3 separate regions of the Homo sapiens genome follow, and all the other regions are linked to region 3. Evidence: fine-mapped expression QTL. A gene starts in region 3. Each other region holds a variant in brackets. All regions are shown on one strand. Distances are from middle to middle. Region 1 has its middle 41 kb from the start of FBN2. Region 2 overlaps CCDC192 (coiled-coil domain containing 192). Region 3 holds the start of FBN2 (fibrillin 2).

Region 1 (11,165 bases), 40 kb before region 3:
GATAGGATCACAGGACTGAAAAAAAAAGCTGTTATATTCATGGCTATAATTTGTTACAGCGAAATGATCAGACTAAAATCAGTGAAGGGAAAAGGCACACAGGGCAGAGTCCAGGAGAAACCAAGGGGAAAAAAACTTCCAGTTTTCTTCTTTCTGTAGAATCACATGGAGATGACATAATTCTCCCAGCAATAATGTGTGGCAACACATGCAAAGTGCTGTCAACCAGAGAGTCACTCTTGAACCCTAGTGTCAGGGTTTTAATTTAAGGATCCATCATGCAAGCATACAACATTTGCATGACTGACTTTTGCTACTCAGTCTCCAGCCCTCCAAAGGCCAAATTTATACAACTTGGTCCCAAACCTCAAGTACACACAAAAAAGCACTTACCATAAATCACATTGCATCCTTTTTTCCTTCTTGTATTAATAGGATCCTCTTTTGCCCTTTGGAAAATTTCCCTTGTCTGTCTCAGTCTAGTGGTTCAAGTGGACCTATCTAGAGGTGGGACACATCATCTGTGCTTGGTTAAGGGAACACTGGATCAAATTCAGCAACTGGCATATAGATGAACAAGTGATCCAAACTGAACAAATAAAAGCTCTTCTTGGGAACTATTAGGAAAGAAGTGCCCTTTCATTACAGCTTGACAGTCTAGATACGGTGTCAACTTTGGCCTGGCTTGACCATTTTAGCCATTACATGGTGATACCCTGCCTGGGAATTAAACCAGGACAGAAGATAACAGAGATGAGAGATAGAGTCTAATAATTTCTGATAATAATGGTGAAAATTCCTAGGTTCAGGCAAGGCTGAAGCCACCAGCCTTCAAAATCCCAGAAAAGTTAGCTAGTTTTGCCATAGCTAGATTAAGTGCATTTCTGTAACTTGCAACCAAGGGAGTCCTCACAAATGCAAGGCTCTAGCCAGCTGGAAGATGTAATAAGGAGGGAGGGAATGTTGTGACCTAAAAGCATTATCAATGAGCACTGAAACTTACACTTAAGCTTAACATGTGCTTAATATACATTAGTCGATTTTTGATGATATTGTGAAATGTTTGTTTATGACAGATAAAAATGCAGAATTCGAAGCTACATTGTATACAATGGGGATTCTGTATACTCATTTTCTTAATAGACTTTATTTTAAAGAAAATTTTCAGCTGGGCTCAGTGGCTCACGCCTGTAATCCCAACACTTTGGGCAGCTGAGGTGGGCGGATCATGAGGTCAAGAGATCGACACCATCCTGGCCAACATGATGAAACCCCATCTCTACTAAAAATACAAAACTTAGCTGGGTGTGGTGGCATGTGCCTGTAGTCCCAGCTACTCAGGAGGCTGAGGCAGGAGAATTGCTTGAACCCAGGAGACAGAGGTTTCAGTGACCCAAGATCGTGCCACTGCACTCCAGCCTGGCTACAGAGTGAGACTCCATCTCAAAAACAAAACAAAATAAAACAAAAAAACAAAAGAAAATTTTCAGATTTAAGAAAAATCAACCAGATAGTAAAGAGAGTTTTCATATGTCCCCCAACCCTCACCCAGTTCCTCCAATTGTTAACATCTTACATTAGTTTGGGACTATTGTTCCAACAGATTAATCAATATTGATGCATTATTTTAACTAAATTCCACAGTTTATTAAGATTGTTCTTAATTTTTACTTAATGTCTTCTTTCGGTTCCAAGATCCCATCCAGCGTACCAAATTACATCTAGTTGTCATTGTCTCCTTAGGCACCTCCTGGCTGTGACAATTTCTCTGACTTTCCTCATTTTTGATGATCTTGACAGTTTTGAGGAACATTGGTCAGGCATGTTGTAGGAATCCCCTCTACTGGATTTGATGTTTTTCTCATTAAGCTGGGGCTGGTTATGGGTTTGGGGAAGCAGGAAGGCAAACGTAAAGTAATTTTTTTGTCACGTCATATCAAGATTGCATAGTAGCAACATGATTTATGATTTATGAATACTGACTTTGATCATATGGCTGAAATAGTGTCTTTCAGGTTTCTCCACTGTAAAGTTATGATTTTTCTCCCACTTTTTGTTCTGCAATCTTTGGAGTGAAGTTACTATGTGTAGCCTACACTTAAAGAGTAGGAAGTTATTCTCTTCCGTCTTTAGGTTGGAGTAACTACATAATTTTTGGAATTTTTCTGCATGAAATAATTGTGTCTTCTCCCCAATATATTAACTTAGTCAATGTATTAATCCATTCTCACTCCGTGATAAAGAACTGCCTGAGGATGGGTAATTTATAAAGGAAAGAGATTTAATTGACTCACAGTTCTTCAGGGCTGAGGAGGCCTCAGGAAACTTACAATCATGGTGGAAAGGGAAGCAAACATGTCCTTCTTCACATGGTGGCAGGAGAGAGAAATGAGTGCCTAGTGAATGGGGAAGCCCCTTATAAAGCCATCAGATCTCGTGACAACTAACTCACTATCACAAGAACTGGATGGGGAAAACTGTCCCCAAGATTCAGTTATCTCCACCTGGTCCTTCCCATTGACATGTGGGGATTAAGGGAACTGCAATTCAAGATGAGATTTGGGTGGGGACACAGCCAAACCGTATCAGTCAATAATTTATTTATATTAGTATGAATTCTATGGATGGTTGCTTTATATTTTGGGTTACAATTCAACACCATTTATTTATTTTGTTACTCAAATTTTCCTGCTTCGACCATTGGAAGCTCTTTCAGTTGGTACCTATGCTTTTCATTATATTCCACAATGTGTGTGTGTGTGTGTGTGTGTGTGTGTGTGTGTGTGTGTCTAGGTTAAAAAAAAAGCTTGTTAATTTGTTTATCTTGAGCACTTTATTACTTTTTGGCATTACAAGATGTTTCAGTCTCATCTTGTATATTTCCTGCCCCAGTACTAGAAACAGCCACTTCTCTAAAGAGTACTGGTTCCTTTTTAATGGATAAAGACACTAGAAAACAAGATCTGGGCACTAGGAACTAGGTGTGATTGTTGTTACTACGGTATCGTTTCTTTTAGGACCTTCCAGGTAACAGAGCAGAGAAATATATGTATGTATCTAATTCATGTATATATACACATCAATCAATGTTTCTGTATATAACCATCTTTATCATTTTAAACATGAATTATTACTGATGTCTCCATCGCTGAATTTTTACCATGGGAAGTGTTCTGGCTTCCTCCCCTTGCTTATCTAAATTCCCACTCCAACAGTGAGAAAACTAGCTGCCACCATCTGCCATCCATCTATTATTCTAGAAAACATGAACAGAAGTATCATAATTTCTAACTTATATCTCTGATAAAGTTCTATCTCTGTATTTTATCAACTAGAGTACAGTCCTTTTGAGTAGTTCTCTCTGTCTTTAGTCTAACAGACTCTATTTATGTCCATAGGTACTTAGGTCAGCAACTTTTACCTTACCAACTTCAATGAGATTGTTTTAGATATTTGTTATACAGTGTAATTATCTTATCATTATCTGTATTCATTCCTGGGATCCCTGAATTCCTAAACTATTTTAAAAATTCACACATATTAAGGTTCACTCTGGGTTGTAAATTTCTAAGGGATTTGGCAAATGATTAATGTCATATATCCACCATTGCAGTATTATACAGAATAGCTTCAACATCCTAAGAATCCCGTGTGCTACATCTATTCATCTCCACTCATCACAGTCTTACCCTGAATTCTGGCCATCACTGATATTTCTACTGCCTTTACAGTTTTGCCTTTTTCAAACTGTTACAAAATTGGAATTATACAGTATGCAGCCTTTTCAAACTGCTTTTTTTTTCAATATGCATTTAAGTTCCTTCCATACTTTTTGTGGCCTAAAAGCCCTTTTTTAAAAAAATCCCAGAGTAATATTCCTTTGCATGGATATACCACCATTTGTTTATTCTTTTAACTACTGAAAAACATCTTGGTGGCTTCAGTTTTGCGTGATTATTAGCAAAGTTTCCAAAAATATTCATGCGCAGGTTTTTTGCATAGATATAAGTCTTCAACCAATTGGGTAAGTAGGTAGGAGCATGATTGCTGAACCTTATGGTAAGATTGTGTTTAGCTTTGTAAGAAACAGCCAAACTGTCTTTAAAAATGCTGTACCATGCATTCCCACCAACAATTAATGAGAATTTCTGCTGCTTAACATCTTCACCAACATTTGGTATTGTCAGTATTTTTTTTTAATTGCAGGCATCTAAGAGGTGTGCAGTTGTATTTTGTTGTTTTAACTTGTGATTCTTTAATGACAAATCATGCTGAACATTTTTATATCCTTATTTGCCAACTTTATATCTTCTTTGGTGGGGTATCTATTTAGATCTTTTCCCTTTTTTCATTGAATTGTTTTATTATTGAGTTTAAGAATTCTTTGTATATTTTGGATACAAGTTGTTCATCAAATATGTCTTTTGCATATATGTTTTCCCAGGCTGTAGTTTTTCTTTTCATTCTGTTAATGGTGATTCTTTTAGTCTTTCCCAAAGTACATTTTTTTCCTTTTAATTAAGTTCAATATATCCATTTTTCCTTCCCTGGATTGTGTTTTTCGTGATGTTTCTAAAAACTAGTTACCAAACACAAGGTCACCTAGATTTTCTCCCATGTTATCTTCCAGTTTTGCAGTTTACATTTAAATATATGATCCACTCTGAGTTTGTGTTTGTGACATGTGTAAAGTATGATTACTTCTTTGCATATAGATGTCCAAGTATTCCAGCACCACTTGTTAAAAGACCATCTTTCTCCATTGAATCATCTTTGCTCTGATCATCTTTGCTTTGATCCATTGAATATGTTTGCATGGGTCTATCTCTGGGCTCTCTATCCTATTCCATTGATATATGTATCAATTGTTTTTCCAATAATACACTCCCTTGATTACTGTGGTTTTATAGCAAGTTTTAAAGTTGGATTTTGTGTGCCCTCCAACTGTATAGACTATAGATTATCAGTGTTCCTATCAGTTTATGGCTCCAGCAGCTTTTACTCCAGATAAGCTGATCTTGACTGCAATTTTCTGTATTCACTTGTCTCTCTAGATTTCACAGCGACAATTTGCCCTGTGACCCCAATTCTCTGATGAGTCTAAGGAAAATCATTGGTTTTCAGGTTGTTCAGCACTATTCTTCTGCGGATGGGAGTGACAGCTTCCAAGCTTTTTATATGTCCCAGCTGCAATGCCAATGCTGTGACTCGGTGTGCTTTTTAAAGTCAAGTCAACTACTTAAAGGCTAACTCACTTGTGATTCCATCAGATCAGGAGGATTATTTTACTTTTTCTGGGGATACAGTGACGGTATACAAATGTTGGAGGAAACTTGAGGCTCTGAATCCCTCAGTCAGGGGGCACTGGTGGAGTTGTTGCTTTTTAGGCTGTGTGGCTAGGAAAAATTTGTAAAGATGAAAATACAGGTTAATGTTTTGGAGATGAGAGCCCCATTGGTAGATCTAAGCATGTATGTCACAGAGGGAGACACAAGTGAAATAGCATAATAAAGTTGAAAAGTATTTACACACATAAAATTTTGACTTATCAGTTGCTCTAACATTAATAATCCTTTTAAAAGATCTCTGAAACTAAGTTACAACACTGCACATGAAAGACCACAGCATGATTCTAGAGATAAGCTCATTGAACACCAACAGTTAATAAGGCAGTAACTATAAAGAATGAGTAGGTTCACAAAAAATGCAATTACTAGCATCATCTAGTAAGTCAATACCAGGAACAATGTCCTCTGAACATACTTGAAAAATTAGTCATTAGGCAGAGATATATGAAATTTTTATGGTTCGTGGAAAAATGAGTAAAGATGTTTGCAGATTATTACATAATCTATTTCCCGGGGTTGATTTATTGCTTAATAAAGTATTTGACGTGAAAACTAAAAGAGAATAGATTCATAATTGTTTAGAACAGTTGTTAACACACCATCAAATAAATTGGCAAAAATATAGAGACATCTGTATCGATGATGAGAAAGCAATGGCGGAAGAAATACAGGAATAGTGGAAAAGCTGTTGCCAAAGTACATTGAAAGACTCACTGTGTTTCACAGACCAGCACTGGCAGTTAAGAAAACGTAACATTAGACATAGTTCTAAACAAGGAAAACTGTCACTTTATTCAGATACAGCCTTTATGCTGCAGAATTATCAGAGTGAAGTATAATGACATAGGCAAGAAAATCGGACCCCACAACGAAGTCTTCATGAAGCCTCGTCCTTTGCCATCCACTCCTGTGTACAAGGAAAGGCCTCTCTCTTGTAAACACAGACAGTGAGCTTGCAGGGGTGCTATTCTTCTACAGGGGAATGGATGGTAGCTGGTGGGTTATTTGTGTGTCTGGGAAAGGGAAGCCAGGTAGCTTTCCTCGTAGAGAGAAATGTTTCCTCAGACTTCTACAGGTCTGCAAGTCTGGAAGGGGGAAACTCTCCTGTCTGCTTCTGGCTGGAGTCAAAATGGCTAGGCTC[T/C]ATTGGCCACCATGCTTGTTCAACTCCCCTATCTCCAGGAGGTGGAACAGGAAACACAAGGAGGGGAAACAAAAGAAAGAAGGCATTCTGCCCCTGAAGAGGGGCATGTTACTCCCCTGCCTTATCTTGTCAGAAGCAAGCACCAGCTTGGATCAAGAACATTTCAATCCATTTATTCATTCACACATTTGTTTATTTCAGCCCAACAAAATGAGTACCTATTCTGTGAAATGCACCATCTTAGGTGCAGGGCCCAACTGTGAAAGTACTCCAGTCATGAATCCAAGAATACCTGCAGCCCATAAGCCACAGAGTAATGCTTTGTCTTAATTTTACCAATGACAGGAAGAGAGTTATAGGATTTTTAATTAATATGAGTTTCTTTAAGAATAAGTCAAAAGTAACTCAATAGTGATAGCCATGGTGTGTGCACCTATCATCCCAGCTACTCAGGAGGCTGAGACAGGAGGATCACTTGATGCCAGGAGTTTGAGGTTGCAGTGTGCCATGATTACACCTGTGAATGGCCTATGAACTCCAGCCTGGGTAACATAGAAAGACCTTGTGTATGAAAGAATAATAATAATCTTATTTTATTTTATTTTGTTTTTTTTTGAAACAGAGTCTTGCTCTGTTGTCCAGGCTGGAGTGCAGTGGCACCATCTTGGCTCACTCCAACCTCCGCCTCCCAGGTTGAAGCAATTCTCATGCCTCAGCCTTCTGAGTAGCTGAGATTATAGGTGTGTGCCACCACACTGCCTAATTTTTGTAGTTTTGTAGAGATGGGTTTTTGCCATGTTGGCCAAGCTGGTCTTGAACTCCTGGCCTCAACTGATCTGCCCACCTCAGCCTCTCGAGGTGCTGGGATTACAGGCATTGGCCACTGCACCCAGTCAACAATCTGATATTTTAAATGGGCAAAAGATCTAAACAAATATTTCTTAAAAGAAGACATACATATGGCCAACAGGTATGTGAAAAAATGCTCAACATCACTAACCTTTGGAGAAATGCAAATCAAAACTACAATTATTTATCACCTCAACCCAGTGAAAATGGCTTTTATCAAAAAGGCAATAATAGATGATGGCAAAGATGTGGAGAAAGGGAAACGCTTCTACACTGTTGGTGGGAATGTAATTTAGTACAGCCACTATGGAGAACAGTATGGAGTTTCCTCAAAAAACTAAAATTAGAACTAACATATAATTCAGCAATCCCACCACTGGGTATATATCAAAAAAAAAAAAAAGGAAATTAGTATATTGAGGAGGTATCTACACTCCCATGTTTATAGTAGCACTATTCATGACAGCCAAAATATAAAGTCAACCTAAGTGTCCATCAATAGATGAATGAATAAAGAAAATGTGATCCATATACACAATGGAATATTATACACCCATTAAAAAGAATGAAATCCTGTCATTTGCAACAACATGAATGGAACTAAAGGACATGATGTTAAATGGAATTAGGCAGGCATAGAAAGACAAATATCGCATGTTCACACTCATATGTGGAAGCTAAAAAAATTGAACCCATGGAGATACAGAGTAGAATGATGGTTACCAAAGGCAAGGATGTGTATGGGGGAGGTGGGGTAAGAGGAAATGGTTAATGGGCACAAATATACAGTTACATAGAAGGAATAAGATTTAGTGTTTCGTAGCACAATAAGGTGACTATAGTTAACAATAATTTATTCACATTTCAAAAAACCTAAAATAGTAAAATTGGAATATTCCTAACACAAAGAAATGATAAATGCTTGAGTTGATAGATATCCCATTACCCTGACTTGATCATTACATATTGTATACTTGTATCAAAATATCACACGTGGCTTGGCATGGTGGCTCATGCCTATAATCCCAGCACTTTGGGAGGCTGAGGTGGGAGGATCACCTGAAGTCAGGAGTTCGAGACCAGCCTGGCCAACATGACAAAACCCCATCTCTACTAAAACTACAAAAATTAGCCTGGCGTGGTGGCAGGTGCCTGTAATCCCAGGTACTCAGGAGGCTGAGGCAGGAGAATCACTTGAACCCAGGAGGCGGAGGTTGTAGTGAGCCAAGATTGTGTCATTTCACTCCAGCCTGGGTGACAGAGAGAGACTCTGTCTCAAAAAAACAAACAAACAAACAAAAAAAACACATGTACCCCATAAATATATACAACTATTATGTAATCCAAAAAAACTAAAAATTAAAAAAGAGTAAGTTAAAAGGGAAAATAATTCCCTCTTATTTCTTAAAAAGGAACACTATTAACTAAATATCTCTCAAATATAGGTAACCCAATTCAACTGAGATTTGTTGGCTAAACCTCACGTGGAACCTGCCTTAAAGTTAACCTCATAAAGCCCTTCATCAAGCATCCATACATACACTCACACACATTTACTTCCAAGAGGCACTGATGAATAAGGCTGATTTTTACTGACATTTTCATGGAGTGATGGAATAATATTGGTTTACATCCCACATGATATAGCAAAATCTTCTAAACATCCTCTTCAAAAATTGGTGCTGAATATCTTCCATTTCCCCTTCAGATCCTATCTCTCTCTACCCTTCTCCACCCTGTCTGTGCCTTAGGAGGTTGACCTGCATTGACCACATCATTGGGCTTCCTGTCTGTGGTCAATGGCAAATTGTAGCAGGAGCAAGAGCAGGGTTGAGATCCCCTGGTCTATATCCTGCAGGGTTGTCCTGGGTCGTCTTCATTCCACCACAGAGGTTTCATCCCTTGTAGGCAGCCTTCTCATCACAGGCCCTGCTGACTCTAGCTTTTGAACAAGTCCTGCTCTTCAGATCTAGGAATGACAATGATGTCTTTTTCTTATTAGTGCAGGGATTCTACAGTATCTCTTATAGTTTTCCTACATGCTGCCTTCACAGTCCTTTTATTATATTCTCTTCAAATTACCCTAATTTGGATATGCCATCTGTTCTTTGCCAGAAAGTATTGACTGATACAATATCACTATTTCCCCTAAAGCTTGACTGTCTAAAGGATTTGTCACATTTCTATGTATCTCTCAGCCCCTCTCAATCCATCCCCATAGAGCTTTTCTCAGAGCGTGCTCCATACACTGACCTTAATCTGCAAAACCAAAAGTCCATCCAGAAGGTTCAACAAAATAAAATCTGACTATTAGCTTAAGGTACAACCATAGCCTCTTCCTCCAATCTTGTTCTGGGAAGACTCAATGTATTTGACTGTAGTTTCTTCTGGTTAAGGAGACTGTAATATTTTCTTGTGGCACCTAGGGTCTCCCCTACTCATAGTCTGCTCACCCTCCAAATCTCCCACTCTCTTACAGGGTGGAGTGTGTGACTATTTCTGAATGTCTGTTTATTCTACTGTCTAGCCTTGCCTGATTAGGTTCAGCAAAACCTTCAGAAGTGTAAACTGGGGAAGGTATACCTGCCATGCAGGTAGGGTGGGCAGCACCTGGATTCAAGAGGGAGGAGGGGATCAGGATTTGGAGCCAGGCTCCTTGTCATGCTTTTTTTCATCTGACACTTTAGTGCCTCCCCAGTGTTCCCAGCTAACACCTGTGTGCAGCATTGAAGGGAATACCTTTCCTCCAGATTTCTAACTCCTGTAAATGTAGAAAGATGGTAATGTAAAGAGACCAGTGCACATTGTCATAAAATGCATTGCATCCTCACCCTAACTTCTTGTGATAACCAAGAAAAATGATAGGATATTTCAAACTCCCGAAGTCCAAAGCAGGCTTAATATGATTGTGAAGTTGTTCTATCTATACTGGCTCTTCTAGATGTATGTTTTTGATGATCGCCAAGGGCTCAATAACTTCAGGTCAGGGATATGATCTCTGGCAAAGGCCTTGGACTGGCGGTGAAGAGCAAGCCAATTCCAAGTCTCCTCCAGCATCCTACTCCACAAGAGGTTCAGATGCAAGACACGCTGAGCCATATATCCAGGGCCTTTCCTGAGTCAGCCAGGTGGCTACTGATAACTGAGAATTCTGTTGGCCGGTGACATCTGCTAAGGTTTGGAAGGATTGTTTAGCCACACATCACCCCTATACTAACCTGCTTTAGCTTATTTCAATTTTTGAAACTGTGCTGCCCAGCACCTTCTTGCAAGTCTTACTGCTAATGTTTCTCCAATCTAAACATATGTGCAGAGCAAATCACTGTTTCCTGTTGACAAGCTTCTCAAACAAACTGGATAACTGGAACAAGCATCTCTTTCAGCTCCTGCTGCATTATCTCTAAACATTGTGCTATAAACACAGTCCCTTTTGCAAGTCCTTAAAACAGAACCTGTAAACTCCCCTTCATTTCTCTGCTTCCAAGACTTACCATCTACATGTCTCTGAATGTTTTAACCATGACTCAGAGCCATCTGCCCTGCCTACCACTACACCTCTTGAAAACCATAGGAGTTTAGTTTCTGATACCAGGTTCCAGATTCATGGTTCTATTCATGGGTCCAAAGCTACCTTGATGGTTTACCCAAAGCTGAGCATTTTAGCAGAGGATTCCGGGTCTCAGTTGCCTTTGAATATTAGTTGACTCATTAATGATTATTAGGGAAATCCCATGTCTTACCCACAGGAGCACTGTTAATGTGTAAGTCTTCAGGACTAAATTCAGAGACTCAGATTCCATTCATGCCACTTAATAGCCAAGTGGTCG
Region 2 (11,165 bases), 720 kb after region 3:
ATCTCGAACTTAATGAGACATTTTTATATTAAAATATATTTAGATTAAATTAATCCTTGGTAGACATTTCACTAGTTTACGATTATATCATTTAAAGTCATGTTGTAAGTATGTCTGACAAACTGATAAAGGAAACAGATGATACATATATTTGAAAAGTAATACATAGAGAAGATCACATTTTTGTAAAAACAAACAAAAAATCAACTTAAAAAAAATAACATGTATATATGTGTTTTTCTATGTTATAGAGTGTAGAAAGTATGTATCGTTAACATAGGGAGTGAGAAAGTAGGAAGGAGAAGGAAGACATTTTAAAATTTATTTATTTTAGATACATATATTTTTTGAGATGGAGTCTCACTCTGTCGCCCAGGCTGGAGTGCAGTGGTGTGATTTCAGCTCTCCTCAACCTCTGCATCATGGGTTCAAGCGATTCTCCTGCCTCAGCCTTCCTGAGTAGCTGGGATTACAGGCATGTGCCACCATGCCCAGTTCATTTTGTATTTTTAGTAGAGGCGAGGTTTCTCCATGTTGGTTAGGCTGGTCGTGAACTCCTGACCCCAGGTGATCCACCCGCCTCGGCCTCCCAAAGTGCTGGGATTACAGGCGTGAGCCACCACACCCAGCCGACATTTTAAAATTTATATGCCTTTATATTATTGACCTTCTGGCCAAATATTCATTGGCTATATTTTGTGGTTGCAGAGCAAAGGCTGAGTAAAATTGTTTTAAAGAATAACCTATTTAGAAATGTAATAAGAATGAAATGTCATAGATGTACAGAAAAAGTTCTAAGGGAAATTATCTTTGTTCAGTCTCACACACATAATTCACAGCATTATCTGCTCAAAATAAGAACATTTAAAATAACACAATCAGTAAGAGTATGAAGATGAAATGCTAAGGTTAAGTTTCAATATTAGAGATGTACGTGTGTGAGAGAGTGTGTGTGCGTGTGTGCTTTAAAATACTTTGTGAAAACAAACAAGGATAAAGATAATCCCTGAGAATGGAAACTAAGGCTGCCTGTGCAAGTGCAAGCACCTTATAGACCATGGACTATTCATTTGTGCAGAGGAGCAGGAGTCTAAACCTCCTTCTGCCTAAAGTATGACAAAGATGATTCTCTAACCTTGGACCTGCTATTGAATCTCCCTGTAAATTGTTTTATAGGGATCGTGGTGGTGGTCTAAAGAAAGAGCAAACTTCTTCATGAAAGGATTTCAGAATCTATGGTGCAATCTATAAAATAGATTCATTTTAGAAGTAAAGACATCTAAAAAGAAACAACCATCAGAGGGTTTGGCTCCCATGCTATCTTTCACTGTGGCATTAAATGTTTGCTAAGATGTAAACTTCTTTCATTTTAGGTCTTTAAAGTCACATGATGGAAGTGACCACCCAGACTCAAAAAAGATAACATATATTATCACATCACTGACTCCACCCTGCCAGATAAAGGCAACCTCCCTACAATCTCAAATATTCCTGTGGAAATAACATGGTTATTTACCCTACCTGAGAACCGCCTGTATTTGTATGGCAATCTGACTGGGGAGAGAGTAAGAATACAGAGTCAGGAACCTAGAGCAGAGTCTGTTGACATAATTATGTGGTGCCTACCCAAGCCCTGAAGTTCTTTTGGGGATAAGAAAGAAGCAGGCATCTCTTGAGGGAAAGTCGTTGTTAGCGCGCTTCCTAGTAGTTGCCTTAGCGTGTACCCTCCTTGCTTTCAATGGTGGCTTAATTTAGGGACAGTAGGGGGTCTTTATCTGGAGCCATGGGTTTCAGGGACTTCCGGAAAAGTGACATTGAAATGGATATGGGTAGACATGTATGAAACAGTTTACAAATAATGAAAGCTAGGATCCCTTTCAACAGTTAATAATCTCACAGGAAGAGCCCAGCACTGCTAGGTTTTCTTTTTCTACTATGAATCCATTATGTGGGGTATTAAGGAGTTGTTGCCTTTCCTCAAATGAAACAAAGCAAGAAGATGTCATGACCTGAAAGTCCCAGCATTGCCAACTCAAGTTGGTTTCTGAGGAAACTTCCAATGGCTGTAGCCAGCTATAAAATATGTGACATGCCTTTTGGGATTTTCCTTACCAGTCCTTTCCCCTAGCTAACATCCAGGCTCTTTCAACTCTCCTTGCCTTTGTACAGGCTACTTCCTCTGCCTAGATCACTCCCACCCCCATCTTCCCTTGGACAGTTCCTCTCCCTAATTTAATACTCAGCTCAGGTATCACTGGCATACCTGATGGCTTCTTGGAGCAGTCTCCAGCTCCACCCTGGGTTAGGGATGGTTCCTCTGAATTCTCATAGTAATTTTTGACAGCCACGATCATTCCACTTGTCATAATGTGCTATAAGACCTATGTATGGGGTCTCTATGTAATCTCTTCTTGATAGCAGTAATTCCAAACTTTGGTTGCACATTAGAATGACTTGAGGAAATGTTAAAAGTCCCCATGTCTTGTTTGTACTCCAAATCAATAGAATTTTGGATGTCTAGGAGTAGAACCCAGGATTCGTTTTTTAAAAAAAATGTTTCCCAGTTGACTTCAATGGTGGCCAAGGTTGAAAACCTCTGCATTAGATGACAAAGTCCTAGAGACTCAGTCTTTAGTATGTCAACCCAATGCATAAGACTGATGTTAAAATTTTGCTAAATTAATGGATTTATATATTCAAATTCAAGTATTTTAGACTCTTATCAAGTGACATTAAGAGGTAGCAATTTATTTATTCCAGAGTGCAAGCAGGTTATAAGCAAAAAAATATGTAAATATCATGTTGATTAAAAATCACTACGCCCATTGATTTTAGAGCAGTGATTTGGGAAAAAGCTATGCTGGGTTTTTTCATATACTTTATTCTGAAGACTCTTCTGATAGTAATTTGTACTATTTTTACGGATATTTTCTAAAGCAAGGTCATGAACTTTGAAGAATTGTGGATTTGTATGACTACTTCTACAATGTCATAGCTTAGGAGATTTACACATGTAAGGACTAGATGCAATGTTTCTAAAAGCGTGGTTCAGAGATCAGCTGCATCCAAATAAAAATACATGTTTCCAGCCCTCATCCTAGATATGCATTTAGATTCTTTGGGAAATAATTCAAGAATCTGTTTTCATTTTTATTTTTTATTGAGATATAGCAGTCATCCTTTTAAAGTGTACAATTCAGCAATATTAGTATATTCACAAAGTTGTGCAACTATCACTACGGAGTCCAGAACATTTCATAAATACAAAAATAAATTCATATCCATTAGCAGTCACTCCCTCACTCCTTATCCATCTCACCCCCTCAGGCCAATGGCAACCAGTACCTATTCTGGACATTTTCAATCAATGGAATCTTACAATATGTGGAGTTTTGTTTTTGGCTTCTTTCACTTAACACAGTATTTTCAATGTTTGTCCATGTTGTAGTATGAACCAGAATTCCTTTTTATGGATAAATAATATTCCATTAGTTGAATATTTTACATTTTGTTTATCCATTCATCAATTGCTGGACATTTGAGTTGTTACCAGTTTTTTGCTATTGTAAATAATGTTGCCATGAACATTTTTGTGCAAGCTTTTGTGTGGACATATTTCCATTCTCTGCAGTATATACCTAGGAACAGAACTGCTGGGTCATATTTTAACTCTTCTACCTGTATTTTAAATAGGGCTTTCAGGTGAACCTAAGACTCACTAAATTTGAGAATCACTTTATTAGGGTGTCACTATTTCCTCCAAGGCACTGTACCTGTAAGCCACCAACTGCCAACAGGTGTGACATTGCACCCGGTAATAGGTGGAAAAGAAAGACTATCACAGCATCCAATCAATTATGATTCATAAGAAAAATGTTAACAATATGAATAACTAATAATATCACATTATCACCTTTGTTTGACAAATTTAAATCCAGATATATTGAAGGACAAGGTTTAAAGAAACAAATAGCATGGAATAAGTCAATCATTAAGAACTCTAATATTTTTCCAGCCTACAGTTGAACTTGCCTTGATTTTCTTTTATCTGAGACCCACAAACTTACTGGGTGTGATGGAACTATAGCATTCTTTTTGCCTGCCAACCATCTTTGAACACTTTTCCTAAGCTTGGTTATTTCCCCACCTTGAGACCTCACTTTCTCAAAGCAGAAGCCTCCCTCGCATCCTCAGTGCAAGGCTTGAAACATTTATGCCAGAATTCAGATAAGAATAGCTGCTATGTGCCCTCTGTTCACAGCAGAAACACCCTGTTTAGAAGCAAAAGTTCTAGTGGAGGCTTCCAGTGCACAGAGCCAGAGGTACCAGCTAGAACTATACAGCAGTGGGAAGCTACCTGGGGAAGTTCTGTGGTGTGATTTGACCATTGTTTCAGCTTCCATTTCCAAATCTGGTTCTCTGGCTCTCCTGGAGAGTGAGAGTTAGCCATGGCCTTCACTTAATACCTATTCTGCTTAAACTGGTATTTCTGTAAAACAAGAACATGACTGATATCACAGGACTCTACCTTAGAAGCCCCACTAAAGCTAAACTAAGTACAAGCTTATCCCAAATTTGCTTATTAGCTTTAGGGTCCTAGCAAATCTCTGTCTGCCTCCTTTGCAGAAAATCCCCCCTTTTCATGGTTCAATGAGCAAATTCCCTCTAAAAAGCTTTACTGATGCAATTTGAACCCTTTGTAATGTTTAATGCTAATTATAAAATATTTATCCACACAACAGTATGTTGATTTCTAAGTCACTCTCTCCAGAACACTAACTCCAAATCATGATTTCTTTGCCAAGTCCATCATAAGCCCCTCCCCTCCTCATTACTTTTCTCTAACACATATTAATGTATCTCAACTTCTTTAAAGTACATTGTCTAATAGCTTTATCTAACCAATGATGGATGAAACCTTTTAGAGACAAAATATGTGATTTTTGTACTTTTTATATACATACTGTATATTTAATAACACCTGATCCCAAATATAATCAGTCATGGATTTTGACAAATTCTCTTTCTTGTACATCTCTCTCTTTTATTTTTATTTTTTTTTTCAGACAGAGTCTCGCTCTGTTGCCCAGGCTGGAGTGCAATGGTGCAACCTACTCTCACTGCAAGCTCCGCCTCCCAGGTTCATGCCATTCTCCTGCCTCAGCCTCCTGAGGAGCTGGGACTACAGGTGCCCGCCACCATGCCTGGCTAATTTTTTTGTATTTTTAGTAGAGACGGGATTTCACTTGTTAGCCAGGATGGTTTTGATCTCCTGACCTCGTGACCCACCCGTCTCAGCCTCCCAAAGTGCTGGGATTACAGGTGTGAGCCGCCATAGCCAGCCCATACATCTCTCTTTAAAGAAACTCCTTAGACTCCTGTGGGCAATCTGGAAGGCTTAGAGAAGATTGTTTCTGTGAAGCTGAAGGTAGATTCCATGCAGGAACTCTGTGAATTTATAGAAATCATGTAAAACCTGATTTTCCCCACCCCCTATCATCCCCAAATGTGCCAATGGACAGACCCAGCCTCAAGATTCCAGGTTTTCAGTCTCTTTGATCACTTGCTCCTAAATGAAATCCAGCAAGAGAGAGGAAGAATTTTACTTGCTGTTCTGACGTTTCACCATCTTCCTCAGATTTAGTTTGCTCTGCTATGCGGGAGTCAACAGAAAATGGCACACAAATATCCATCGACTCTTTCTAAAATATGTTAAAGTTGATGTGTACAATAGCTCCCAGG[T/C]CACACAGTCTATTAATACACCACACAGATCTGAAAATATGCCCATGAACCTACAGTTTCAGATAGAGAAACACCAGCCTAGAGTCTTACTACTGAGCATTTTTAAGGCTACACATGGTCATTGCTGAAAGAGAGAGATCCTTCTGTCATAATATTTATTCATGAGAGGTGCAAAGAATTATATTTTGAGGCCAGAAATTTTCCCAACACATACTGTCTTGAAAATAAAAATAAAAAAAACCCATCAGAGAAAACTAATTAAAAAATATTTTTAAAAATTCGCCATACTGAAGATGTTGAAAACAACTGTTTACCCTCAACAATGTTTAAGACAACACAGGTACGTAGGACATGAATGGGAGAACAGTGGGAGCTGTGCAGCTAGAATTTCATTGGCACAAATTTCCAAACATGTCAGACTTGAAACTAACCAGCAAGGGATTGCTTTGCTGGAAAGTCATTCTAAAGTCTAAATTCTTATTCTAAGATCCAGGGCTGAAAGGCAAAGTAAATTCCTCGGGCAACACAGTTTTGGAGAAGTCATAGAAAGATCTCCCAAAATGTTACTGAGTCTTTTCCCAACTAAGCTTTTAGCTATTCCAATTAACTAAAAACTACACATTTATAAGCATTAAACATGCTACTGTTTAGGCTAAAATCTCAACCCTCCATTTCCATTCAGTGAAGCTTTTATCCACAACAATCACTTTAACTCAACATGGCAGCCTTGCAAGGGTTACCATGGCAGAGTTCTTTGGTTACTTTGGTTACCTCCTGAGCTCCACACTCTGGGGAAGTGTGTTTTATGCGGGAAAGAGCATTGAGGGGGAAACATGCCCATGGGCTCAAACTGGACATAACTTGTTTTTAATGCTTAATGCAAACATTTAGCTGTATTCTTATTAGCAATTCCACAAAGAAGAATAACGCCTCCTATTCTGATTTCCGACTATTCCCTCTACTGAACTTCTAGTCTCACTGTTCACATTGTTCCTGCTCCCACTCCTGCCCTTACTGCCGTCTGCATTCTCCCCTACTCCTGAAGCAGCCTCCCTGTTTGACCCTCCAAACCTCCTCCTGCTTTTCCTTTTAATCCTTCCTCTAAACCAGTTCTTCTGTGAGGACAGACAATAGCAATTCACAACCAAGGCTCCCTGCACCCACTAAGCCTGAAGGATGAGAAACTGGCTTGTGAGGATCAGTAAAAATAGTTGAAGAATGAATAATTAATAACTATTTATTTTGGTTTTACATTCCTTTGCCTCTTCTTGGATTTTGTGATTTACTGGTATCCTTTCTATGAGAAGCTCAGGTCCTTCTTAGTTCCTATAACACAATATTGTCATGAGTTTTTAATGGAAAAAGTTTAAGAAGTGTAGAGTTACTATTTTAGTTTTTCTTTGTTTTTTAAGATGATTCATATTTAAACCATTTGTGGACTCTGACCTGGCTATCCTTGCAGAAATCACATCTGCTTGAACAAGTCTGTCTGAATCATTTTTTTAAATATGGTCACTGAGTATTGTTACAGATTCTGAGACTATGACAAAACTTTTCAGTCATAAAGGCTCAAGCAAACTCTTCCAGGTCGCTTTTTACTCTCTGTAGTCTCCCAGTGGGATTTATGTCAGCCCTCAGTAAATGGCACATAAAAGAAAGGGAAGAGATTGGGCAAAACATAGAATTATTTATATTTGAAACACTACAAATGATAAAAAACTGCAGATGAGCAGTTACTTAAATTTTAAATAAAATTTAAAGCTAGAAACAATTTCCTTTTTTATTTTGCAAAAGAGGGTATTGATATCCTCAATGATTTTTAGGAAACTATACAAAAATTTACTTGTTTAAATTTTCAAAAATTCTGAGTTTTTTCATTCAATTTCCTTGAGGGTGCTTCTAGAGGAATTCCTGACAAGAGAATTTGAGAGTGGAAAGGCTAAAGCAGAAAAAGAACAACATAATGAAATAGGGACAGTTTAAGTCCCATCCTGGGCCCCCGCAATGAGGAAGGTGAACAGTAACGTCAAAAGGGCCTCATGGAAAGGTGTGTGCCATCAGGCCCTTCTCCGCCCTGCACGGGCTCCCACTCTAAAGGGACACAAATGTCTCCAGGAACATGCATCCAAAAATGGATGTCAAAGAAACGGTAAAATCAGCTGCATTTGATTTAGCACTGAGCACAGGAAATATGCATCATAAAAATTCCCAGTTGGGGCATTTGGTTATGGGGTCAAGCAAGAGTTAGAGATAAACAGGTAGGAGGGCATTCTCCAGGAAGCTGAGAAAGTAAAGGTTAGGGCAGCAAAGGTGGAGGAAAAAGAGTGTGGTCAGAATTGCCTTGAAACATCAAAGATTGTCTTTTTCAGTTGCAAAACTCGTAGGCAGTAGTTTTCCATTCCCCATGGCATTGACCTCTGCCTAAAGCAATCACTGTGTTCTTACTCAAGTGAAGGTGAGCAGAAACGCCCCGTACTAATTCCTCCTTTGGCAGAAACAAAACAGTCTCCTACATGCTCTCCTCGTGCACAGAAAGAATGAGTGAGTAATATCTTGGGCTCAACAGGGACATGTATTTTTTTTGAAGACAGTGAAATAATTAAGAGTTAAAATCAATAAAATGGAATTTGGTACCAAAAAATATATGCTTTTAAACACTTAGATAAATGTCAAAGCATATGTAGCAAATGAGGGTCAGGACAAGGCAACAATAGCAGCAGCACCGATGCACTGATAATCACCATCAACATTAATGAGGGCTGGCTATATCCCAGGACCACTTTCAGCTCTTCACCAGTGTCATCCCATTTAATTCTCACAATAATCCTGTTGAGGTAGGTTCTACCATTATTCCATTTTACAGATAATCACGATGCTGAACATTCAGAGCATTCTCTCACAAAGAATGTGGTTAAAACTTACCACTGAGCAAAACATGGAAATGTATGCTGGTTTTGTTGTTTTATTTTTTTGTTTTGTTTTATTGTTTAGCAAGCACTTACATAAAATTGATTGTGTTGTAGGTACCAGTCTAAGGATTTTATAAAAATTAACACATTTAACCCTCATGACAAATCGGTGAGCTAGATACATTTAGTATCCCCATTTTGCAGTCGTGGAAATTAAGCCTCAGGATCAAGCAATCTACTCAGACACTCAGCTAGTAACTGGTAGAGCTGGGCTCTAAACCAAAGCAGTCTGTCTTGAATGTTCAGAGGGGAAAATGTTCTATACATGCAGTTTATACTCAAGAATTTCTTAAATATTTAGTCAACTCATCCAATTTACTGGGGCAGGGAGCAGTGTGTATGGAGGGTGTGTATAGTGTGAGGAAAGGCTGGGGAGAGGAGAGACAGGCATTTATTGAGTCTCCCTTTTCTTCTCAGACCTTGCCAATGACTCTATCACGTATCATGATTATTGGTGTAGGTACTCACATTTCCTCTTATGTATGTTACCACCTGGTAAATCTGATGATAATAAACTTATCACTGGGGAGTAAAAGATATCTAACAGGTGAAAGAGTAGGCAAAGTCAATTTCAGTGCTAAGAACTAATGCTTACAGCTTTGATTTTATTTTACCTAATAATTTTAGTATTTCTTCACATTCGCGAACAAAATAAATAAAAATATATCACATTTTGACTCAACTATCTAAGCACATATTTCTGTCTAAGCATTTCTGTTTAAGCCTTCCTATCTAAGCATTACTAAGTACACAACCCTCTAAAAAAAATCCCTTAAGTTTCAAGTAAGTTCAGCCTTAAAACATTAACTTCCTCATAAAGAGGAATTGCTGCTACTACATTACCAACACTACCCCCAACTCCTATGCAAGGAGAGGAAATTAACTTTTGTGGTAGAGTTTGAGCATCTGGAAAGCCTTTGGTTGGGAAACCTGGTCTCATTAATAAAACAACCTGAAAATGCCCCAACAAGGGAGGGAATGGAGATTGGTGCTTTGAAAAAGAAAAGGAAGTAGAAAAACCTAAGGGGAGGAAGTTGCTTCAGAATTTAGAGCAGATTAAGTATTGGGGGTTCTTAAGACAGCAGAGAGCGTACTCCACTTGTACACAGGTCCTTTGGGTAATAAGACCTGAAATAGGCAATTATATGTAAAGAGGCCTGATGCTGAGTGTTGTATATAGACCAGGAGCTGCCATAAACCCTCTGTTAAAGCTTAGCACTGAATAAAAAGAGCCACAAGGCTCTGAATGGGCCCATAGGCATGGACATGGAGCAGAGGGAAGGAAAGTCACAACCCACTAGAAGTTAGTGGCCCCAACTTTTGGCAAGTAAAGTTACTGGGGTACTTCTGCAAATCCCAGGAGGGAGAGAGGACCACCCTTCCTCCCAAATGACCGAAACTGAACTTTCTGCTAACACATGACACATGGAGCCTGAGTCAGATTTGATTTTATAAGAAACTGCCCTGTGAAGCTTATTACTGTGTTTACTGTCAGGTTATTAGTGAGGACATTTATTATTCTATTAGGTAGTATGCCTTCCTGCACCAGTAATGTTGCTGCTTCCATTGAGTGCTGGGCTTGATTTTATTCCATGGATGCGCTTTTGTTTTTATAAATGATTATTTTGACCATCAGAAAGACTACAGCCAACTTTTGCCTTACCTCTAACAAGTGAGTATTTTATGTTAGGGCTGCTTAACAAAAATCCATATTCCCCTCTCCTTTCTGGGTATACAGCTAGACTACCCTTTTTAGCATTCCTTGTAATTAATGTGGTCTCATGACTGAGTTCTAACCAATGCACCACTTCCACGTATGACCAGTTAGAAGTTTTCCAAGCCCACACCTCAACAATCTCTTCTTTTTTGGCCAATTGGGATAGAGATGACCCCAAAATGACCTTGGATCCTACATGCTGAGCACAGCAGAGGCTCCAACAGTTTTTATCACAGAATGACACTAAATAACAATGAATGGGCAGAGTCTGCCCACCAGCAAGTCCCACAATGGACTGTTATTTGAATGAGAAAGAAATGAACTTCTATTGTGGTAAGCACTGAAATTCTGGGATCTATGTGTTACAAAAGCTAGCATTATCTAACTAGCAAACTTAAAGTGGCTGAAACAACCACCACAATACCTAATTCTCCTTCACTTATTCCTGGCCTTTTTTGGAGAACATCTTTCAAATTGTAGAACAGATGTAAGAAAATAGCAGCCTGAATGTAAAATCCAGTGTAAGGCTCATATTTAGGCTATGAATAAATGTATTTTGTTTGCCACACAGAGCAATCTGTTTTATTCAAATCAGTTGAAAACATTTACAAATGAGAAGATTTCACACCAAAAATCTGGATTTTCATTGTCTGAAAAATTAGTGATCTTGGGCTTTATTCTCCTTTTTATGTGAGTCAGGCACCCTCCAGACCCATATGACTGGTTCTGACCATCTT
Region 3 (11,165 bases):
TAAAAAGCATAGATTCACAGAGAATTGCACAGATAGCACAGAGAGATCCTGTTTACCCTTTACCTAGTTTCTCCCAATGGTTATTTCTTATGTACAATATAAAAACCACAAAATTGACACTGGCACAATGTGTATGTATAATTCTATTCCATTTTTCACATGCACAGATTTGGGTAAGCACCACCAAGTGGTTAGAGAACTATTTCCTCATCACAAAGGTCTCCCTGTGCTACCCCTTTAACTTATCACAGTCTACTAGTATTATCATTTTACCAGTATAGAAACCTTACCACCTTTTATGTGTCTTTCCCTTCCTCTGTTTACAAAATAATTTTCTTAAATATTTCTTATATATACCTGAGACAATGTTATAATTTTTGTATGAACCATATTTAGAAAAATCAAGAGATAAAATTTATTGTAATTACTCATACTTTTCCATATATTCCCTCTTTTTGTTCTTTCTTCCTTCTTGTTTCAAGAATCCTTTGGTTAATATTTCATTTCTGATTAAATAATTTCCTTTAGCCATTATTTTAGGGTGGGTCTGATGGAGACACATTCTTGTTTTCCTTCATTTAAAAGGGTCTTCATGTGTCCTTTATTTCTGAAGGATATTTCCACTGGGTATAGAATTCTTGGTTGACAGTTCTTTACTTTCTTTCAGCACTGAAGAAATGGGTGTCACTCCCTTCTGGCTTCCACACTTTTTGATGTAAAATCTGCTATCATTTGAATTGTTTTTTTCCAGAAAGGACAAGTAAAGTGTCCTTTCTTTCGCTGCTTTCATGATTTTTTTCTTTGCCTTTAATTTTCAAAACTTGGACTATGATGAGTCTTGATGTGAATGCCTTTGGGTTTATTCTGTTTAGGACTTATTAGGCTTATTGAATCTGTATATTTATGCAAAGCCCAAAATTTGAAAATGTTTCACCATTATTTATTCTCCAAGTAATTTTTCAGCAGCTTTATCCTCTTTCTCTTCCTTTGAAATTCAGATAATCAAATGTTACATATTTTATTATAGTCTCATAGCTCCCTAAGGCTGTTTGATTTTTCAGTGTATATACTCTTCATTGTTCAGTTTGAGTGATTTCTATTTTTCTATCTTCAAGTTCACTGATTCTTTCCTCTGCTCTCTGAATTTTGCTGTGAAACCCATCTATTAAGTTTTAAAATTTTGTTTTATTTTTAAATTCTAAAATTTTCATTTGGTTCTTCTTTATGTCTTCTATTTCTGTGCTGATGCTTTCTACTTTCTTTCTTTTATCATCTGTTTCAAGAGTTTTACAATGGCCCACTGATGCATTTTTATTGTAGTTGCTTTAAGAATATTGTCAGACAATTCTAACATCTGTGTCATCTCAGTGTTGATGTGTATTGATTTTCTTTTCTCATTTAAGTTAAGATCTTCCTGGTTCTTTCAATGATAAATGATTTTCAGTTGAATCTTGGAATTAAAAAAAATTGCTGGTAAATAGTAGGTGTATATGAATCTTGGACATTTTTTACTTTATTTTGTGAGACTTTGGGTTATATTTAAATTCTTTGTTTTAGCAGCCTCCTCTGATACTGCAATGGTGGGCAGACAGGGCAAGGGATGCCTCATTACTGCTAGATGACGGTGGAAGTCCAAGATCTACATGCAGCCTCTGTTGACACTCTTGAGGGGAGGAGTAACTTGTTATTTATTACTGGGCAGGGGTGACAGTACAGGGTCACCACTCAAGCTCTTCTGTACCACTCTGGCTAGGACAGTGGTGTTTCATTACTGCTCCCAATGTAGTTTCCCATGATATTCCATGACACCTTGGTGGTGGTGGGATGGCCTCATTACTGCTGGGCAGTGAGAAGATTCCTGAGCATCTACTAGGTATCTTCTGACACCATCCCAGCAGACAGGGGCATCTCATTACTGTTAGGTGGAGGTGGAAGTCCAGCTTCTCCACTGACACCATGGGGAGAAGGTGGCTCACGACTGTGCAGGGGGATGAAAGTCTGAGCTTTCCACTTGGCTTTCTCTGACACTATCCAGGAGAAGGGGAGGGATACCTTGCTACACCCTGGTAAGGATGAAAGTCTAGGCTCCTTACTTGGCCATTGTTGGTAAAGGTGACTACAGTTTTTTTCTGTGGTTTGGTTAGGGCAGTTATTGTCTAAAAGTGTTTTGTCTTTCTAGGCTATCCCTTTCTTGTCTTTTGGCTAGAGAGGGCAGGCTTTCTTTCGAGGCTTTCTTTGGTCTGTTGCCAATGGCATTTCCAAATTGCCAGATTTCCTAGCACTCATTCTGGGATACAAAAAGCAAAAGACAATTCAGGAAAACCACCATCATGTCATTCCTCAGGTTCCAAGGTCACTAGCAGGGTAACTAGTCTGCCTTCTTCTCCCTACCATTTACAGTCTTCTTATGTGTGCATGCTCTCTCTCTCCACATATATTTATTTATGTTTAGTTAAGTATACTTGCCAAGAGGAATAAAGTACATCTAATCCACTCTGCCTTTGTTCTTCTTGCAGTATTTTGAATCAAACCCAGGCATCCTATCATTTCATCTATAAAGACTTTAGTAAGTATAACATTAGCCAGTATATTAAAAATATAACAATGATTCCATTGTCACATCTCCCAAAATTAAAAATAAATATTTAATATCTAGTAACCAGTGTTCAGTTCAGTGTTCTATCACTACATAACAAATTACCCCTAAAGTTATAGGTTTAAAAAATTTATTTTGCCTTAGCCTTTTATGGGTCAGGAACTCAGAAGAGTTTGCCTGGGTAGTTCTTACTTGGGGTGTCTCACGCAGTTGCAGTTATATATTGACTGTAGCTGCAACCATATAAATAAGACTTACTAGACTGGATGATAGCATCAAAAATGTTATTTTTCACTAACATTCATATCAAAATCCCAGATAAGGGGCAAGCATTGCTTTTGGTGGTTGTGCCATAACAGTTCCCCTCCCTCTTCTCTACTGATGTCATTTATTTGAAGAACTTGGTCTTGTGGTATATCCCATTCTAGATCTGGTTACCTATATTCTCAAGGTATCATTTAATATGTTTCATGGTCCTCTATTGTTCTTGGAAACTGGGAGTTAAATGTAGAGATATGGTTACATTCAGGCTCAGTTTTTTTGACAAAGATATTTCATAGGTGGTCTGTGTACCTCCTATTGCACCATAAAAATAAAAACATAATGTCTGGTTGTCTTACTTTTCATAAGTTAATAATTAATCAGTAGGTTCTGGTGGTAACAGCTTGACACATTCACTAAAAAGTTCCCAATTGACTTTTTGATGCACGGCTTCCCAAGTAAATTTGTATTTTGGACCAGATAATGCTTTGCTATGGGAGACTGGCCTGTACATCGTAGAATGTTTAGCAGCATCTCTGATACTCTCATCACCACTCCCACACACTGTCTTGTTGTGACAATAAAAAATGTCTCCAATTACTGCCAAATATACCCTGAGGAAAAATGGCCACAAGTTGAACACTTCTTACCTAATGGTTTTAGCAGTTGTTAAAAACCGTTGCCTAGGTCCATTATTTTATTAGGGTTTACAAGTAGTGATTTTTCTAATTCCATCATTCCTGCATTTACAACTGTGGTTTTTTTTTTTTTTCAAAAGAAATACTTTCTCTGGGTCTTTCTAGCAAAGGAAGAATAACTGGTTAATAATTTTATTTATCGATGCGTTTAGAATAGTGAGCTGTGCCCTAACAACCTCCAAAAGTGGCCAACTAATTTTTGTTTGGAGTATCATTCGGAAATCTTGAATACTGACACACTTCATGTATTTCAATCTTTTGCTGTCATTTCTTTTTTCTTTTTGATGCTCAAGTTTCCCCATCCTTAACCAGCAAGATCTCTTTCAACTTAGCTCAGGTTTCCTTTTGACATGACCTTAATAGTCAGATAATTTCTTGCTTTCAGGCATGACAAGACAGATAGTCCAGATTCACTTTATGCATTTCCTTTCCCAGACTTAGAATCTGCCACTCACCCAAGGAACCCTGATTCCTTTAATTTAGAAATGGTATTTAGGAACCACAATCTGGTCACAATGACCTTATGGTTTTTGGGTTGTCACTATTTCTAGGTCTTTGGAACATAGTTCCAAAGCCAGAACTATAAAACTAAGTTTATTTAGAAAGGTTTAGCTTCCACCATTGTTTCTTTCCTCATAGTCTCCCCTTTCTCTACAGATAACCATTTTTTATTAGATTTAGTTTATACTTCTTGTTTGTTGTTAAATCTATAACACACTCATACCCCTAAAAAGTAGCATACAATATTATACAGCTTTCATTTAAAAAATATTGTAAAAAATAGACATAACATAAAATTTACCATTTTAATCATTTTTAAGCGTGCAATTCAGTAGCATTAAGTACATGCACAATGTTGGACCACCGTCACCATTATCCATTTCTAACTTTTTCATCATCCTAGGCAGACCACTTTGTACTCACTAAACAATAACTCATCCTTCCCATTTTCCTGGAGCTCCTGGTAACCTTTATTCTACTTTGTCTCAATGAACTGCCTAGTCTATCTGTACCTTGCTTTTTTTTTATTTTAGTAGACTGTATATGCTAGAGATCACTCTCTAAGAGCATACAGAGTTTCTCTTCATTCATATTTGACAGCTGCATAATACTTCACTGAATAGATGAAGTCATACACAACAGTTGCTTGTTCATGGGAAGTTTGTGTTTCTAGTCTTTCACTATTATAAACAGTGCTGCAAAGAACAGTCAAATGTATGCACCATTTCATTTTTTTTTGTCTATGTATCTTTTATATAGGTTCCTAAAAGTGGAATTGCTGGATCAAAGGGTAAAGGCATAGGCAATTCTAGAGCATTTAGATTTAATGTGATGGACAGGAATGAACCATGAAGCCACGTAAGTATTAAACAACAGCAACAACAACAAAAAAAGCAGATACAGGATGTTTTAAATGGTATGACTAAAACACTGCTTTAAACCAGGAGATAGTTACATTAGTTAGCTCTTTTAGTTTAAATAATTTTATTATTTGAAGCGAAGTACGTGAAAATAACTGTATTGCTCTTTCTCTGGATTTTAACAAATCGGTGTCTCACATGAAATTATGTAACTCTTATCTTTTCTTCTGCTTTATGAGAATACTGTAACAAGGGGTACTACCTTCAGACCCTTTGACTACATGGAGAAATAAAGGAGGGAGTTGTGCCAATTACTGGAGAATTTTGGCTGTCAAATAGCACATCTGGGCAATTTGGGCCAGAAATACATATATATGATATATGATATATATATGATATATGATATATATGATATATGATATATACGATATATATGATATATGATATATATGATATATACGATATATGATATATACGATATATATGATATATATGATATATGATATATATGATATATATGATATATATGATATATATGATATATATGATATATGATATATATGATAGATCATATATGATCTATCATATATATCATATATCATATATCATATATATGATATATATGATCTATCATATATATGATATATCATATATGATCTATCATATATATGATATCATATATATGATATATGATATATATGATATATGATATATATCATATATATGTTATGTGTATATATGTATATATGTACGTGTATATATATACACACACACACACACACACACCCTCCTATACATATTCAACATTTTCCCCTTTAAACTAAGGTTTTCTAGGCTTGAATAAACCAGACACTGCTCTTTTGTACTGTTTCGCAAACTGTGCTTGGATGGTCTCTCCTTGTTTTCAGGAGTGTTTGATTTTTAAATTGTGATATTCCACTAAATGAGAAATGACCAGGACTTCACAGAGATTTCATGAAAGGAGGGCCACAAAGGAAGAACCCAGAGCAGGCCGGTGAGAGGCACTCTAAGAGGTACAGAGGGTTGCACCAATTGCTAGGATTTAATCAATCAGAAGGGGTCCAAGCCAGGAAGCAAGGGCATGCCCCGAGCCTCATTTACCCGCCTTGTCACCACCCTGCCCGCTAGTACATTTCAGAGTCTCTAACCCCTCCCTGCATGCAAGCCCAGGCAGAGTCCTGCCAGGTTTCACACCAGAGCACACCCCTGCACGGACTCCCCAGGACCGCGGCGCCGGCTGGCTGCCTCGGCCCCCCGCGGCCGCGTGAGCTCCCTCTTGGTGGTGGAGGGCGCATTTCAATCTGGAAACTCCCAGCCCCTAATTTGGTCCCGCAGACTGACGCCGCTCCCGGTGGGGCGGTGGGGGTAGGAGGGCAAAGGGGAGGTCTCCTCCTTCTTGGATTGAGGCTGCAACCAACAGCCCCGTGAGCCTCTATTCCTGGCTGACTGCGAATCCCCCCATCCCAGGTCAGGGGCCGGGACCCTACAGAAAGACCCGTTCTCATCCTCAACCTTGCGGCCTCTGTCCGGCGGGGAAGTTCAGCTGCGGGTCAGTTCAGCTGCGGGTCCGGCCAAGCCTGGCGCGCTTAGGCACCCTAGTCCCTGGTCCGCGGCCGGGCGAGGACGGAGGGGGAGGGGAAGGGGCTGCTGCCTCCTTTCCCAAATCCGGTCCCTAATCGCCCCATCCCCCGCCGTCTACTCGCTTTGTACAGGCAGTCAAAACAGAGCTAGCGGCCAATTGACGGGGACGGGAAGCAAAGCCGCCTAGCGCCTCGCCCCCTCCAGCCGGCCCCCCGGGCCCCTCCTCTCGGCGCCCGGACCTTGGCCCTCCCTCTCCTTTCCCACTTCTCTCTTTGCCCTAACTTCGCCCCCATCCCCCGCTCATTTCCTCTCGCACCCGGGCTCGCCAATCCCTCTTTCCAAGTCCCTCTTCCAGCCCGGCCTTCCTCTCGGGTTCGCCCCCCTTCTCCCCAATCTCCGTCCTCTTCCCTCCCTTCGCCCTCCCCCCCTTCCTTCCTCTTCCCCTCACCCAACCCTGGTTCCCCTCGTTCCTCAGTCCCGATCTCTCCCTTACTCTGTCCCCGCCCACTCTGCGCCGGCCTCTCAGTCCGGGTTGAGCCCCACGTGTGGACGGCCGCGCCCCCACTGACAGCCGCCGCCCGCCGGCCCGCCCCGCGCCCCGCCGGGCCTCTAAAACCCCCGCGCCGCGCCCTCCACCGCCGCATCTTCTCCAGCGCCCAGCCTCCCGCCCTCTCTCTTGCTGGCCGCACGCCCCGGCCCCGCGCACCTCCGCCCGGCTCCGCAGCCGCTACCCGCGCTTCGTTGCCCTGTGGGACTCCGAGCGAGCCCGGAGGGAACCCTCCTCTTCTTCTGGGGGCGACTTTTGTTTGCTTGCCTGTTTCTTTCTGGTGACTTTTGCAGCTTTCCAATATCCGTCTTCGGAGCGCACGGGAATCCGCCGAGCTCTGCGTGCAGGCCCTTTTTTCTTTTGAGGTTCACATTTTTTGAAATTTTACGCCAGGGCTTTTGTAATTTCCTCCCCCGCCCGCTGACGGTCCTGGAGTCGCTCGGGGCTTTAGGCCGGTTATGCAACGTGTACCGCTCGGGGCTGCCGGCTGCACCTCCGCCGCGCCTCGCCGCTCACTGCGCTAGACCCGGCGCCCCGCGTCTCGCTTCGCGGGCAGTCAGGGGGCCGGCGCTCTGTCGAGGTCTCCAGCTAGAGCAGGGAGCCCGAGCCCGAGGGAGTCCCCGGAGCCGACGAAGGGCTTATTAGACCCTGACTCTTTTCTGAGGCGCGCAGATTTTGTCTTTGATCACTCCCTCTCCGCGGGTCTACGGCCGCGCGCTTTCGGCGCCGGCGATGGGGAGAAGACGGAGGCTGTGTCTCCAGCTCTACTTCCTGTGGCTGGGCTGTGTGGTGCTCTGGGCGCAGGGCACGGCCGGCCAGCCTCAGCCTCCTCCGCCCAAGCCGCCCCGGCCCCAGCCGCCGCCGCAACAGGTTCGGTCCGCTACAGCAGGCTCTGAAGGCGGGTTTCTAGCGCCCGAGTATCGCGAGGAGGGTGCCGCAGTGGCCAGCCGCGTCCGCCGGCGAGGACAGCAGGACGTGCTCCGAGGGTAAGTGGGCAAGCGGCTCCGCACCTAGGGCTCCGGCTTGGGGGAGGGGGGAATCCTCAGTTTGGCGGCTTTCTGGCCCACTCCGTCCCAGACCCTTTAGCTGGAGCCTAGAGCTGCAGCCCCCTTTGCCAGAATATCCAAAGACCCCCAGGAGCGCGTCCCCCTTTTCCTTCCCAACCCCGCAGCTCAGCGGGCGGAAAGCCCTCTCTCCGGGGGTTGGGCGGCGGGTGGTTAGGGGGTCCAGGGGTGCCGATCGCAGAGCGTGTGCAGAGCTCGCGCTGCGGGAACAGGTTCTGAATGTCCGGCGGCAGGCGGGCCTGGGTCCGCCTGCTGCAGGGGCCAGAGAAGCCTGCTTGCTCCCCACGTCGGGGCCGCCGCTCGTGAGCCTTTTGTTTGAGGACGTGTGCAGGGTTCACAGCTCACCTTCTCATCGTCAACCCGAGCGCTCCACCTTGCGACGCGCTTTCCTTGACACGTCGGGGCCAAAGTAACAGTTGACCAAGGAGGAATGGATTTGGGAAGGAGGGCAAGGATTCTTTGGAACGGAATGGTCCCTTTGTTCTCTGCATCTGGAAGCTAGAATAGTAGCAAATTATATGTTTCCATGCCTCTTTTCGCCCTTTAAAAAGGCAGGCAAGGGACGACAGATGAAAGGCAGTGTTTAGACATTTCTGACCCTCCTGCATTCCAGCATCTAGCTCTTTTGCTTCCACGTCTGCCTCCCGATCTCCAATAATTTGAAGTGTAATTTTGATTTGTTTGTTGTCCTGAAATCTACTCGCTCGGGGCATTGCTTACGAAGACCGTTTATATGTTGCTGCATCCCTCTACCTATCTGTTACGTGACCGCGCTTGTCCATCACAGGCCCAACGTGTGCGGCTCCAGATTCCACTCCTACTGCTGCCCTGGATGGAAGACGCTCCCTGGAGGAAACCAGTGCATTGTCCGTGAGTGCTTGGCAGGGATCGCAGCTTGGGGCAGCGCACTCGGCCCTATCTCCGGCCGACCTCTTGCACTCAGCCATTTGGACGCATAGTTGCGTTTAAAATCAAGTGATCACATTGCACTGATAATCGGGACGCGGCCCCATTTGAATAGTGGGGAAGACTCAACCGGTTTGAGTCAGTTCAGACTTCACTTCTAGACTCTGTTGAAGGGCAATAATGATAAAGATTTCAAAGATAATTGAAAGTTTTATCTTTCTATGTCTATTAATACAAATTGGAAGAGGGGAGGAGTAGAGCAATTATCTAGATAACTCAAAACCACTTTTTCTGTAAAAAATCCAGATGAGACCACATGTTATTATGCAAATTATCAGGCTTTTAACTCTGCTTGAGGTTTGGGCCTTATGAAGATCAAGATTTCTTAGGCATTTATATAAAACCACTTTCTTATTTCTGGTTTTATATCAACAACCACATAACCTAGATACGAAAGGAGCATTCTCGCGGATTTAGTGTTGACCTAAGTTAACAAACTTTTAAAAGACAGAACTCTTACAAAGGGGCTTGAGTTTTTTTTTTTTTTTGCTTTTTGGAAGACGTTTAAATTTAGGGTTTCCAGACCCTGAACCTCAATAGTGTGCAGTAGATTTCCAAAGTATGAATCTTAGACCTTGAAAAATTCTGTATCTCTGACCTTAAAAGTTTTGATTATTTTATTCTGTTTCCAAAGTGTATAACCAGTTCTCCAAGTTCTAATTGGAGAGCTCATTAGTTATCAGCCTCACAGTCACGGACTCTGGGATGTCTTATTTCATATGCCTGTAAATTTGTGACTTGCAGTGTGACTGGCCTTCTCCTGTGTGTTTATGTAGCACAACCACATTTGTCTTGTTGGAAGGAGAGCCAGGTATCATAGACAGCACATTCATTTAGAGCCAGTCTTGACTTTAGATTGACCTCCATGTTCTCCAGGGAGAAAATAATTATGCAACTGTGAACAGAGAAAAAGGGCAAGGCACACTAACCAAGGGATAATAAGGATGTAGTGGCATTTCTAACTCTGTATTTATTGGTTTTGTGGTTTTGAGATAGATGCTTAATGTTATTTCTGGGCAGTTTTTAAAAAAGAGATGAAATCTCCAGTGTCATAAAGACTAATTTCTTCTTATTTTTTCTACCTTAACATCCCACTATTTCCAATGGCAAAAATAGGAAACAACTGTGTTATTTAAAGTGACTTATAAATATTTTGAACAAATCCTCTGATTATAATAAGCCTTTGCTTTATTTTTTAAAAGAACATGTTCTGCATTCTTTTCTCTCCAACACAGAAGTCATATGTGAGGCATTAATGGAGGGTGGGTTTACTCTTTCAGGCCAGTAGGGCATTACCATGGCTGCTTTAAACTTACACGGTTTTTTAGACTCCTGAAACAGCTAACGTCACTCATCACACACCTGCCATACTAGCTGGGAGTGACTTAGGCACGGCGGAAAGTCTGACTCACTAAATGTAATGAATGTGACTGCCATTATTGAGTTGGAGAGCAGCCGAGGAGGAGGGATTGGTTCATGGTACGTGTTGAAAATCTGTAAAGTCAGATTTTATTGGATCAGTGTGGAATGGGAATTCCAGAGAGCAGAGCCTTCCAGAATATTTGCAGTAGAAATATATGTATGGCCCCACTGATCACTGGTAGAAAATCAGCTTTGAAAATCTCAGGGTAACAGTGACTATTGTAATCTGCATTTCTGAGACTTGAAATATTTGGATGGTTATGAGCTACATTGGAATTTACACGTATCAGAAATCTATGAGAGTAAACTTTGAAATGATCTTTATATCTGTAAGAAACATTTATAACACTTGTGTCAAGACGTATCTACAAAAATATTTATTAGAAACACATCTAAAAATTCTAAGTACCTAAGATTATTAAACAGTGCACAAAATAGGGACAGTGTAATACCTTTATATTCTATTGCATGAGTCTCATTTAATGCTAATAGCCTGCATTCAATTCAGTAGTTCAATTAGTCTGACATTTAAAATGATCATATGTAGAGGTAATAAGTGAAATGAAACCGTTATAAACTCAAAATCAAGAATTTTAATTCCAGGCCTTCCTGATGATAATGAATTAAGTAAATTATTATATTTATTGG

What was found. PIP is the estimated chance that this variant, and not a neighbour inherited with it, causes the effect.
Region 1: its variant is the best candidate, but not a certain one, in a credible set for the expression of FBN2 in whole blood (TOPMed, PIP 0.78).
Region 2: its variant is the best candidate, but not a certain one, in a credible set for the expression of FBN2 in whole blood (INTERVAL, PIP 0.86).

The regions. Positions count from the first base shown.
Region 1 is chr5:128,573,896-128,585,060 of GRCh38, reverse strand. No RefSeq gene overlaps it. Among named protein-coding and RNA genes, the nearest start is that of FBN2, 41 kb to the right of the region's middle. The variant T/C (reference allele first, on the strand shown) is at 6,490.
Region 2 is chr5:127,809,766-127,820,930 of GRCh38, reverse strand. The region is part of intron 5 of CCDC192 (coiled-coil domain containing 192); the gene reads right to left. Among named protein-coding and RNA genes, the nearest start is that of CCDC192, 110 kb to the right of the region's middle. The variant T/C (reference allele first, on the strand shown) is at 5,743.
Region 3 is chr5:128,534,236-128,545,400 of GRCh38, reverse strand. FBN2 (fibrillin 2) reads left to right here and starts at 7,156. Exons shown (of 65, transcript NM_001999.4): 1 at 7,156-8,051; 2 at 8,917-8,999. The coding sequence starts at 7,798. RefSeq lists enhancers at 6,330-6,830, 8,556-9,486.